2 separate regions of the Homo sapiens genome follow, and region 2 is linked to region 1. Evidence: fine-mapped expression QTL. A gene starts in region 1. The other region holds a variant in brackets. All regions are shown on one strand. Distances are from middle to middle. Region 1 holds the start of RPS24 (ribosomal protein S24). Region 2 overlaps POLR3A (RNA polymerase III subunit A).

Region 1 (5,529 bases):
AAGAGTGAAACTCCATCTCAAAAATAAAAAAAAATAAAAAATAAAGTTGTGCAGGCCGGGCGCGGTGGCTCACGCCTGTAATCTCAGCACTTTGGGAGGCCGAGGTGGGCAGATCATGAGGTCAGGAATTTGAGACCAGCCTGACCAATATGGTGAAACTCCGTCTCTACTAAAAAATACAAAAATTAGCCTGGTGTGGTGGCGCATTCCTGTAATTCCAGCAACTCAGGAGGCTAAGGCAGGAGAATCGCTTAAATCCGGGAGGCGGAGGTTGCAGTGAGCCAAGATTGTGCCACTGCACTCCAGCCTGGGCAACAGAGCAAGACTCTGCCTCAAAAAAAAAAAAAAAAAAAATATATATATATATATATATAGATATAGATATAGATATATGTGTATATATACACATACGTGTATATATACACGTATATAAAGTGTGAACTTGGGAAAGTTATTTAATCTTATTGTGTGTTAGTTTCCCCATTTATAACATGGGTGAGTAATATGTATCCTATTTCTTAGAGTCAATGGGAAGGTTAAATAGCAAAATGAAGGTAAAAGTAATTAGAATGTAACAGGCACATTACAATCACTCAATAAATATTCTTCTGCCTCAGCCTCCCGAGTAGCTGGGACTACAGGTGCGCACCACCATGCCTGGCTAATTTTTGTATTTTTAGTAGAGACGGGGTTTCACCATATTGGCTAGGCTGGTCTTGAACTCCTGACCTCGTGATCTGCCTGCCTCGGCCTTCCAGAGTGCTGGGATTACAGGCATGAGCCACCGTGCCCAGCCGGCTGACTATTTTCTTAAGAATAAGGATAGTTGGTCACCTCGGGAGGCTGAGGCAGAAGAATCGCTTGAACTTGGGAGGCGGATGTTGCAGTGACCCGAGATCCCGCCACTGCACTCCAGCCTGGGTGACAGAGCGAGATGCGGTCTCAAAAAAAAAAAAAAAAACAAAAAACGAAAAAAAAGAAAAATAGTCGGCCGGGGACGGTGGCTCACGCCTATAATCCCAGCACTTTGAGAGGCCGAGGCGGGGGCGGATCACTTGCGGTCAGGAGTTGGAGACCAGCCTGGCCAACATGGTGAAACCCCGTCTCTCCTAAAAATACAAAAATTAGCTGGGCATTGTGGCGCAGGCCTGTAATTTTAGTTACTCTGGAAGCTGAGCCAGGAGAATCGCTTGAATCCGGGAGGTCGAGGTTGCAGTGAGCCGCGATGAAGCCATTGCTCTCCAACCTGGGTGACAAGAGCTAGACTCTGTCTCAGGAAAAAAAAAAAAAGAAAATAGGAAAGCTGCCCGCAAAGCCTGCACCTTGGACACCTCGTCTGCACTAACATTTGGGAAATTCTTCTTATTATTTCTCCGGAACATATATATTTACATTCTTTACATGTCTGTTTCACGTTAAAGAAAATATTTCTGGAGCAATCAATTTTTTTTTCCTTTTTTTTTTTTTTTTTCTGAGACGGAGTTTCGCTCTTATTGCCCAGGCGGAGTGCAATGGTGCGATCTCGGCCCACTGCAACCTCCGCCTCCCGGGTTCAAGCGATTCTCCTGTCTCAGCCTCCCAGATAGCTGGGATTAGAGGCATGCACCACCACGCCCGGCCAATTTTTTTTTTTTTGTAGTAGAGACGGGGTTTCGCCATTTTGCCCAGGCTGGTATCGAACTTCTGACCTCAGGTCATCTACCTGCTTCGGCCTCCCAAAGTGTTGGGATTATAGGCGTGAGCCACTGCCCCTGGCTTCCAATTTTTTTTTCCTTTTTTTTCTTTTCTTTTTTTTTTTTTTCTGAGACGGATTTTCGCTCCTGTTGCCCAGGCTGGAGTGCAATGGTGTGATCTCGGCCCACTGCAACCTTTGCTTCCCGGGTTCTGGCGATTCTCCTGCCTCAGCCTCCCGAGTAGCTGGGATTACAGGCATGAGCCACCACGCCCCGCTAATTTTGTATTTTGTATTTATTTATTTATTTATTTTCGTAGATACGTGGTTTCGCCATGTTGGCCAGGCTGGTATCGAACTCCTGACCTCAGGTGATCCGCCCGCCTTGCCCTCCCAAAGTGCTGGGATTACAGGCGTGGCCATCGCGCCCGGCCAAATATTTTTCAAAATCTAATTTTGCATAATGACCAAGATTTGCAGAAAAATACAAATTAAAGAGATCTTTTAAAGTAAAGATTCGTCATAAAAGTCACAGAAATAATACTCATGAATAATAAATTAGAATGGGCAATGTTAAGTACTTGAAATAACAAAGGTTTTAGAGTCAGGGTTTCTGCAGTTTCCCTAGCCATATAACGAGGAGACTGTTAGAGAGGATATCCTAAAATGCTTTCCAAGTTTACCCACCTCTAACTCGGAAGAAGGCAATTTAAACTAATTTGGTTTACCGGAATTCAAATACGTACAATTCAACATAATGAATTGAACTGAAATTGAACACCTGCTTGCGTAAACCTAGTCGGCTCGAGTTGTTCTGGTTCTGGATTGGTCAGTCTAGAGTTCCAGGGGTGTGGCCAAAAGTCTGTGAGGCGGGGCCGTAGGCAGCCTAAATCAGGCATCGGCGCGGTCAGCCTCGTGGCGCGCCCACGCCCCCACGCCGGCTCTTCCCGGGGTCCTTCCGTGCGCGTTGATATGATTGGCCGGCGAATCGTGGTTCTCTTTTCCTCCTTGGCTGTCTGAAGATAGATCGCCATCATGGTGAGTCTCCCTGGGCCCGTGCAGTCATCTGCCGCGTATCCGAGCCATCCGTGGTCCCTGGGTCCCAGTACTTGAGCTATAGGCACGCGAAGCCCGGTTGCTCTTCTCTGGCCGTTTCTGTCAGAGGATGGTTGTCGAGGGGCTCGGGGCTGTTGGCAGGGCGTCCGGGCTGGCGGGCTGCGCTGTAGACCCGGACACGCTGGGCTTCGGGCTCCAGCGCCTGGGCAGTGCAGGAGCTGTTGCGCTTGTTGACTTCGTGGAGCACGGTGGATGGGGGTAGGGGGCGGGCGGGATAGATGGACACTGGGAGGCACATCTCGTCTGCAGTTCCTCATTGGGCTAGGTAGGCGGCTTGCAGGTGATGGCAGTACAAGAGGTGAAGAAGGTGCGGGCAGCGCCTGGGCGAGTTGCGGCAAGTGAAACCATTCCCACGTGTAAGCTAGAAAACTTGTCAGCTGGATGGATCTTCATGTTTCATAGTGGGGAAACAGGCCCTGGAAAGAGATGTTATAAAAAGGTAGTCCTGCCCTAAGTCATGCGTTATTAGCTCCTCCAGCATCCGTTTTTAACTTTACCAGCAATCTTTTTTTTTTCTCCTTACCTTTGATCCGTTACTTTCAAGAATTGAGTACCACTGACGTGGATTTAATTTGGTGTGGTTTCTCAAAGTAAAATGGAGAAAGTCTAGGAAGTTATTTGCTGCCATGAAAGTCTCTTGCGCCTCCTTTTTGGTAAAATTGTTAGCATAAATTGCTTAATGCCCACATTTTTTGTTAGGTATTAAGTAAAGGTGCAGTTCAGTCCTTCAGAAGGGAATATCGTTTTCTCTGATCTCTGCTATGGCCATTCTAGAAGGATAGATTACATGTAGGTAGTGAGTACAAGGTTTGGGGCACATTTGTGCAAGACATGATAAACACAGTTCATTGAGTGACCTTTATATGAGCCACAGCAGTTTTTACCCCAGAGAAGTGATTCTCAACCCGGAGTGATTTTTCTCCTAAGGGAACAGTTGGCTAAGTCTGGAGACATTTTTGATTGTCACAACTGGGAAAGGTGGGAAGTGCTTCCGGCATCTAGTGGTTAGAGGGCTGGGATTTTTATAGTTATTCTAAAACATACAGTCCCCACAACATATCCATATGGAATTATCCATATGGAAATATCAGTAGTGCTGAGGTTGAGAAACCCTGCCCCAGAGATACACATAACCTAGTGAAGTAAGTTGTACAGATTCATGTGTAAAACCATTGTGTTTTCCTGGTATTTTATGTATTCCTTAGGTGTATCCTGTGAGTTTGGCCTTGCCCAGTGGGTTTTATTTACTTTAGTTCGCTACATGACTAATGGCTACAAATTGGACTGCAACATTCTAGGTCTTGGAAAATCACAGCAAGGCCAAGAAAAGTTGGAGTAGTTTTATTAACCAGAGTGTTTATGTTTTCAGAACGACACCGTAACTATCCGCACTAGAAAGTTCATGACCAACCGACTACTTCAGAGGAAACAAATGGTAAGGAAGGGCACATCAATCTTTGCTTAATTGTCCTTTACTCTAAAGATGTATTTTATCATACTGAATGCTAAACTTGATATCTCCTTTTAGGTCATTGATGTCCTTCACCCCGGGAAGGCGACAGTGCCTAAGACAGAAATTCGGGAAAAACTAGCCAAAATGTACAAGACCACACCGGATGTCATCTTTGTATTTGGATTCAGAACTCATTTTGGTGGTGGCAAGACAACTGGCTTTGGCATGATTTATGATTCCCTGGATTATGCAAAGAAAAATGAACCCAAACATAGACTTGCAAGAGTAGGTGTCTTTTCATTTGTTGATCAGCTCCTGAAGACCTATTTTTTCAATAGCGTTGTGTTGTGAGTGTGGTAAAAAGGGCAAGACCAAGCAATCTGGGATACAACTCTGAAAGGATTAAGAGAAAAAGTTATTTCATAAAATGCACAGGTGGAGTACGGGGGTTCAAAATTGAAGTCTGACATTTGAGCTGAGTTCAGAAGGGCAGCTGAAGTAGTGTTCTTGGAGATGGGCTAGGGGTAAGGATTGTTTTCCAGAGGAGAAGTAAGGGGATGTGTTTGGAAAGGTAGCCTGGCACCAAATTCACTTAGTTTGGATTAAGTCTGCATCTGGGCTTAAACCCATAGGTAGTCAGGAACCAGGAAAAGTTTTTGATTGTATACTGAGTGTCAAACACTGCAGAGTGAACTACAGCAGTGATCTGGGCAAGCTCCCCAGCTTACATTCTAGTAAACAAGTAAGCATCATCACCTCGAAGTGCTTGTTTTGTTTGTTCCTTTAACTCACTTTATCCTATCCTGTTAGATAAACCTTCCCATACGATAGCTGTGAGGGAAAATCCTGGTGATGTCATAGGTAGAGGCTGCACTTTTTTTTTTAGAGAGAGAGTTTAGCTCTGTCGCCCAGGCTGGAGTGCAGTGGTACAATCTCCTTGGCTCACTGCAACCTCCGCCTGCCAGGTTCACGCAACTCTTCTGCCTGAGCTTCCTGAGTAGCTGGGATTACAGGTGCGCACCATCATGCCTGGGTAATTTTTGTATTTTTAGTAGAGACTGGGTTTCACCATGTTGGTCAGCCTGGTCTTGAACTCCTGACCTCGTAATCCGCCCACCTCGGCCTCCCAAAATGTTGGGATTACAGGTGTGAGCCACCGTGCCCAGCTGAGGCTGCACTATTTTTAACTGACGTTCGGTCATGTTAAAGGCCTTGCTGAGGTGGTGACATTGAAGCTGAGATCCTTGTAAAGATTTGGAAGTAGTCTTTGTAAAGATACAGAAACAGT
Region 2 (5,000 bases), 29 kb before region 1:
CAATCTAACATTTAAAGAAATTTGAAAATACTGAGGCAAGATGCCCGATTTCCGATCAGTAAATGTTTCAGAACCTTAGAGGAGCAAAATGCCCTGGCTATATGAACATGTACATCTTCTACAAGGTTCTAAAATTGGTGTATAAGGCAAACAGTTTATCTTTTTTTTGTTTTTGTTGGAGACAGGATCTCACTCTGTTGCTGAGGTTGGTGTACAATGGCATAATCACAGCTCACTGCAGCCTCAAACTCCCGGGCTCAAGTGATCCTCCTGCCCCAGACCCCTGAGTAGCTAGGACTACAGGTATATGTCCCTACCAGGCCTGGCTAATTTTTAAAATTTTTTTTGTAGAGATGGGGTCTTGCTATACTGCCCAGGTTGGACTTGAACTCCTGGCCTCAAGGGATCTTCCTGCCTTGATTATAGGCATAAGCCACCAAGCCTGGCCTAAAATTGACAGTAATAAAAACTTGAAGAATCCTTTAAATGGCCCATAAGGTAGAATGTATGGCTTTGTGTATACTACCCTACACAACAAAATATCTGTATATAAATAGCTGTGTGGACACACACATGCACCCCATACAAATATATAAGATAATATGTGGTATGTAAAAGAGAATTGCCTGTACTATTTGTAAATTTGTCTTTCTACTTTTTCTTGCCAAGCACACATCTGAATGTCTGCAAGCTAGGCATGTGATGAGGTGACTTCACAAGAATATTCCGGCTCATGAGCTCATCCACAGTTACTCCTCAACTTACAAACTAGGATGCTGAATCAGTTACAAGTCTGGTTCCATGAAAAATTGCTGCTGCCGAGGTCTCAAGTAATTTTCTAGGAGGTACCGGTGAGGGATATCCTTTTCTCTCTCTCTAAGACTCAGTAAGATTAAGAATGAGCTAATGGTAAATACCTCACAAAATTCTGGTTTCTCCCTGCTTTAGAAAATGTATTTCATTAGAAAACTTCCCAATGCTTAAAGAGCCTTTCTTCCACACTCAGGTGAGTCAAAGCTCAGTGCCACGGGTTTATCGGTGAGGCAGAAGACGGCCAGGTGAAAGCCTGGTGCACTCAGACTGCTGAGGGAGTTTCAGGTTCTCACAGGCTGGTGGTGATTCTGATTCTGACCCATGCTGGTTGAGATCTTAGCTAAAATAGTTTCAAATGAGGGGCAGCAGGCTGGGGATGTGACTATTAGACATGAATTCTCCCTCTTCCGCATCCAAGTCTCTTTCAAAGACCATACATTCAAAGAGCTGTGGTGAGGCTGGGCACGGTGGCTCATGCCTGTAATTCCAGCACTTTGGGAAGCCGAGGTGGGTGGATCACCTGAGGTCAGGAGTTCGAGACCAGGCTGGCCAACATGGCAAAACCCCGCCTCTACTAAAAATGCAAAAAAAAAATTAGCTGGGCATGGTGGTGGGCGCCTGTAATCCCAGCTACTTAGGATGTTGAGGCAGGGATAATTGCTTGCACCCAGGAGGTAGAGGTTGCAGTGAGATGAGATTGCACCACTGCACTCCAGCCTGGGCGACAAAGTGAGACTCCATCTTAAAACAAAACAACAACAAAAAAACTGGCTGGGCGTAGTGGCTTACACCTGTAATCCCAGTACTTTGGGAGGCCAAGGTGGGCAGATCACGAGGTCAGGAGATCGAGACCGTGCTGGCCAACATGGTGAAACCCTGTCTCTACTAAAAATACAAAAATTAGCTGGTCATGGTGGCATGTGCCTGTAATCCCAGCTACTTGGGAGGGTGAGGCAGGAGAATTGCTTGAACCAGGGAGTCAGACGTTGCAGTGAGCCAAGATCGTACCACTGCACTCCAGCCTGGCTGGAGTGCTTCATAAAACTATGAAAAGCGAGACTCCGTCTCAAACAAAAACAAAAACAAAAAAAACCAAACCCCCAAAAACCAAAGAGCTGTGGTGTCAGTTTCTACTTGAAGGATGCTGAAAATAGAAAAGGCAGGAGCACTCGAGTACCAGTTACAGAAGGGACCTGAGTGTGCCACCAGAACAAGAGCAGCCTCGTGTGGCCGAATGAACAGATGGCTATGTTTTCACCACCTGGATGTGAAAGTTAGGAGGGACATGAGGATCTGATGAAAGGCCCTACCCTCAGGAAACAAACAAGGACACACACAGTGAGCCCAGGGCCCCAACAGGACAGACGAGGACATACACAGTGAGCCCTGGGCCCCAACAGGACAGACGCCAATGCCTTGACTTGCCCACTCCTTTGCTACCTCTATTCATGGCTCAGCACAACCCCAGAGAGCACCACCGTAGCCACTGTGCACGGCAAGTGGCGACCCTGAACCAAAGGGCCGGGCTCACCTCCAGGGTCTCCTCAGCAGTGCAGCCAGGCTGCTGCTGCAGCTTGCCCGTGTTCAGGGCTTCGATGTACTCATCACATTTCTTGTAGCCGGCATTCAGCAACTCATACTTGGCCTTCAGCAGTCCTTGGCCAGGTGTGACATCACCGATCCCAATTGAGAAACCACGGTTAGCTGTTGAGTTGGTAGAGCAGGAAGAAAGGGCCATAAATGAGACTCAGCAAACCTACTAAATACAGTTTATGCCTGCTAGATATAGTTTGTACTATATATAAACTATGTATGTATAGTTTAAAGTATAAAAAAGTGTATATCTTCACAGAATTCATCACAATTCAATTAAATAATGGCTTTCTTTCTCAGTCATTAGGGAGTTACACAAAATGACTAGGACTCAACTGACTTCTCTCAGAGACCTTACGATCTGGTGGGGAAACACAATACCGTTTCCAACTATTATCTAAAGCAGAGTGACATTAAACACTAAAGGGTGGCCTGAGGGCTGGGTGCAGTGGCTCACGCCTATAATCCCAGCACTTTGGAAGGCTGAGGCAGGAGGCTCGCTTGATCCCAGATGTTTGTGATCAGCCTCATCTCTACAAAAACCTTAAAAAATTAGCCGGGCATGGTGGCACATGCCAGTAGTCCCAGCTACTTGGGAGGTGGAGGTTGCAATGAGCCATAATCACATCACTGCGCTCCAGCCTGGGCAACAGAGCAAGACCCTGTGTCACACA[C/T]ACAAAAAAGTATTCTCCAACTTTGATGGAACTAGGTGCCACCATTGATCCTAGCCACAATATACTGTATGTAGAAATAAAGAGAGTGAATGAGTGGCTTCTGGCTTAGCAGGATAGGAAGGTATGACCTACAAGTATCTGTAGATGAGAGGACTAATGGGCCTGGAAAGGCTCAGAAATGAGATCATTAGGTTCTGCAACTGCTGGAAATGATGAATGTGCTGGAAACAAGGAAACCTAGTGGAAAGTCTGTATAAGGAAGGCTCCAGGCCCTTATTCCTGTAGGAGATGGGAGTTCGCTCCCAGCGAAATGGAATCAGAGAGGCTCTGGGTCTGGGAATACCAGGCAGATGAAATAACTGTAAACAAGAGCACTGAGGGAAAGTCTGTATATTCCTTTTATATAAAAAAACTGAGAGGTCCATCAACCAGTCAGCTCCATTTCCAATCAGTGTTTCAGTCCTTACTCCTCAAGGACCACCAGATATTTGAGGAAAGATTTTAACATGAAAGACAAAAGACACAAATGCACAGGAAAAAGAAAGTAAAAGGATACAGAAAATTCAGGAAGCAAATATAATAAAACTATGAATAATATTCTCTCAGAGTGATCAGAGAAGATACATTCAGGGATCAAAACAAGAAAGCTTTAAAAACAAAACAGCCTGGGCATAGTGGCTCACGCCTGTAATCCCAGCACTTTGGGAGGCCGAGGTGGGCAGATCACTTGAGGTCAGGAGTTCGAGACCACCCTGGCCAACATGGTGAAACCCCGTCTCTACTAAAAACACAAAAATTAGCCGGGCATGGTGGCAGGCACCTGTAGTCCCAGTTACTCGGGAGGCTGTGGCAGGAGAATCACTTGAGCCTGGGAGGCGGAGGTTGCAGCGAGCTGAGATTGCATCACTGCACTCCAGCCTGGCGACTGAGCAAGACTCTGTCTCAAAAAAAAAAAAAAAAAAAAAAAAAAGAAACAAAAACACTACCTGTGAATAAGTATATTGAAAAATAGTATTGGAAATTAAATACATGACAGTGATAAAATTTTAAAAATCAACAGAAGTATTAAAAGATAAAGTGAATCTAGAATAAAGAAATGGCAAATGGAAAAGAAGATAATTAGATAATTAATCTAGGAGTTCTAATATGTAATTAACTGAAGTTCCAAAAAGAAAGAACAGAGAAAGTAAAAGAGAGAAAATTATTAAAGAAATAACATAAAATTTCCCGAATGGAAGGACACACAGCTGCAGATTAAATGAAATTACTCAGTGCTTAGCACAGTGAATGAAAAAAGACCCACACCAAAGGTATATTGTTGTGAACTTTCACAGTGAGAACAGAGAGGATTCTGAAAGTTTCTAAAATGAAAAAAACAATTCAAGGGCCAGGCATGGTAGCTAATGCCTGTAATCCTAGCACTTTGGGAGGTGGAGGCAGGTGGATCACTTGAGACCAGGAGTTCAAGACCAACCTGGGCAACATGGTGAGACTTCATTTCTACAAAACTTAGTTGGGCATGGTGGCACATGCCTGTAGTCCCAGCTGCTCGAGAGGCTGCGTGAGCCAAGATCACACCACTGCACTACAGCCTGGGTGACAGAGCAAGACCCTATCTTCAAAAAACAAAAAAAAATCAAATACAAAAACTGGGGAATAAGAACGACAATACCTGTTAACAACAACTCTGAAAGCAAGAAGAAAGTAGAGCAGTACCTTCAAAATTCTGAGGGAAAATAATTTTCAATCTAAAATTGTATACCCAGGCAAGTATAAGAGTGGAATAAAGTTTTGGGGGCATGCAAACATCACTTGACTCATGGCCCACTCAAAGCATGAGCAAACAAACAAACAAACAAAATAGAACAGTGAAAGCATAGTAGGCAAATATTGAGTAATCTTGGAGAACTGAATCATGGA

What was found. PIP is the estimated chance that this variant, and not a neighbour inherited with it, causes the effect.
Region 2: its variant is fine-mapped to the expression of RPS24 in whole blood (INTERVAL, PIP above 0.99).

Annotation. Positions count from the first base shown.
Region 1 is chr10:78,031,195-78,036,723 of GRCh38, forward strand. It overlaps RPS24 (ribosomal protein S24), which reads left to right and starts at 2,669. Exons shown (of 6, transcript NM_033022.4): 1 at 2,669-2,710; 2 at 4,158-4,223; 3 at 4,317-4,526. The coding sequence starts at 2,708. RefSeq lists an enhancer at 2,469-2,998.
Region 2 is chr10:78,002,372-78,007,371 of GRCh38, forward strand. POLR3A (RNA polymerase III subunit A) reads right to left here. Exons shown (of 31, transcript NM_007055.4): 16 at 2,345-2,517. Among named protein-coding and RNA genes, the nearest start is that of POLR3A, 25 kb to the right of the region's middle. The variant C/T (reference allele first, on the strand shown) is at 3,081.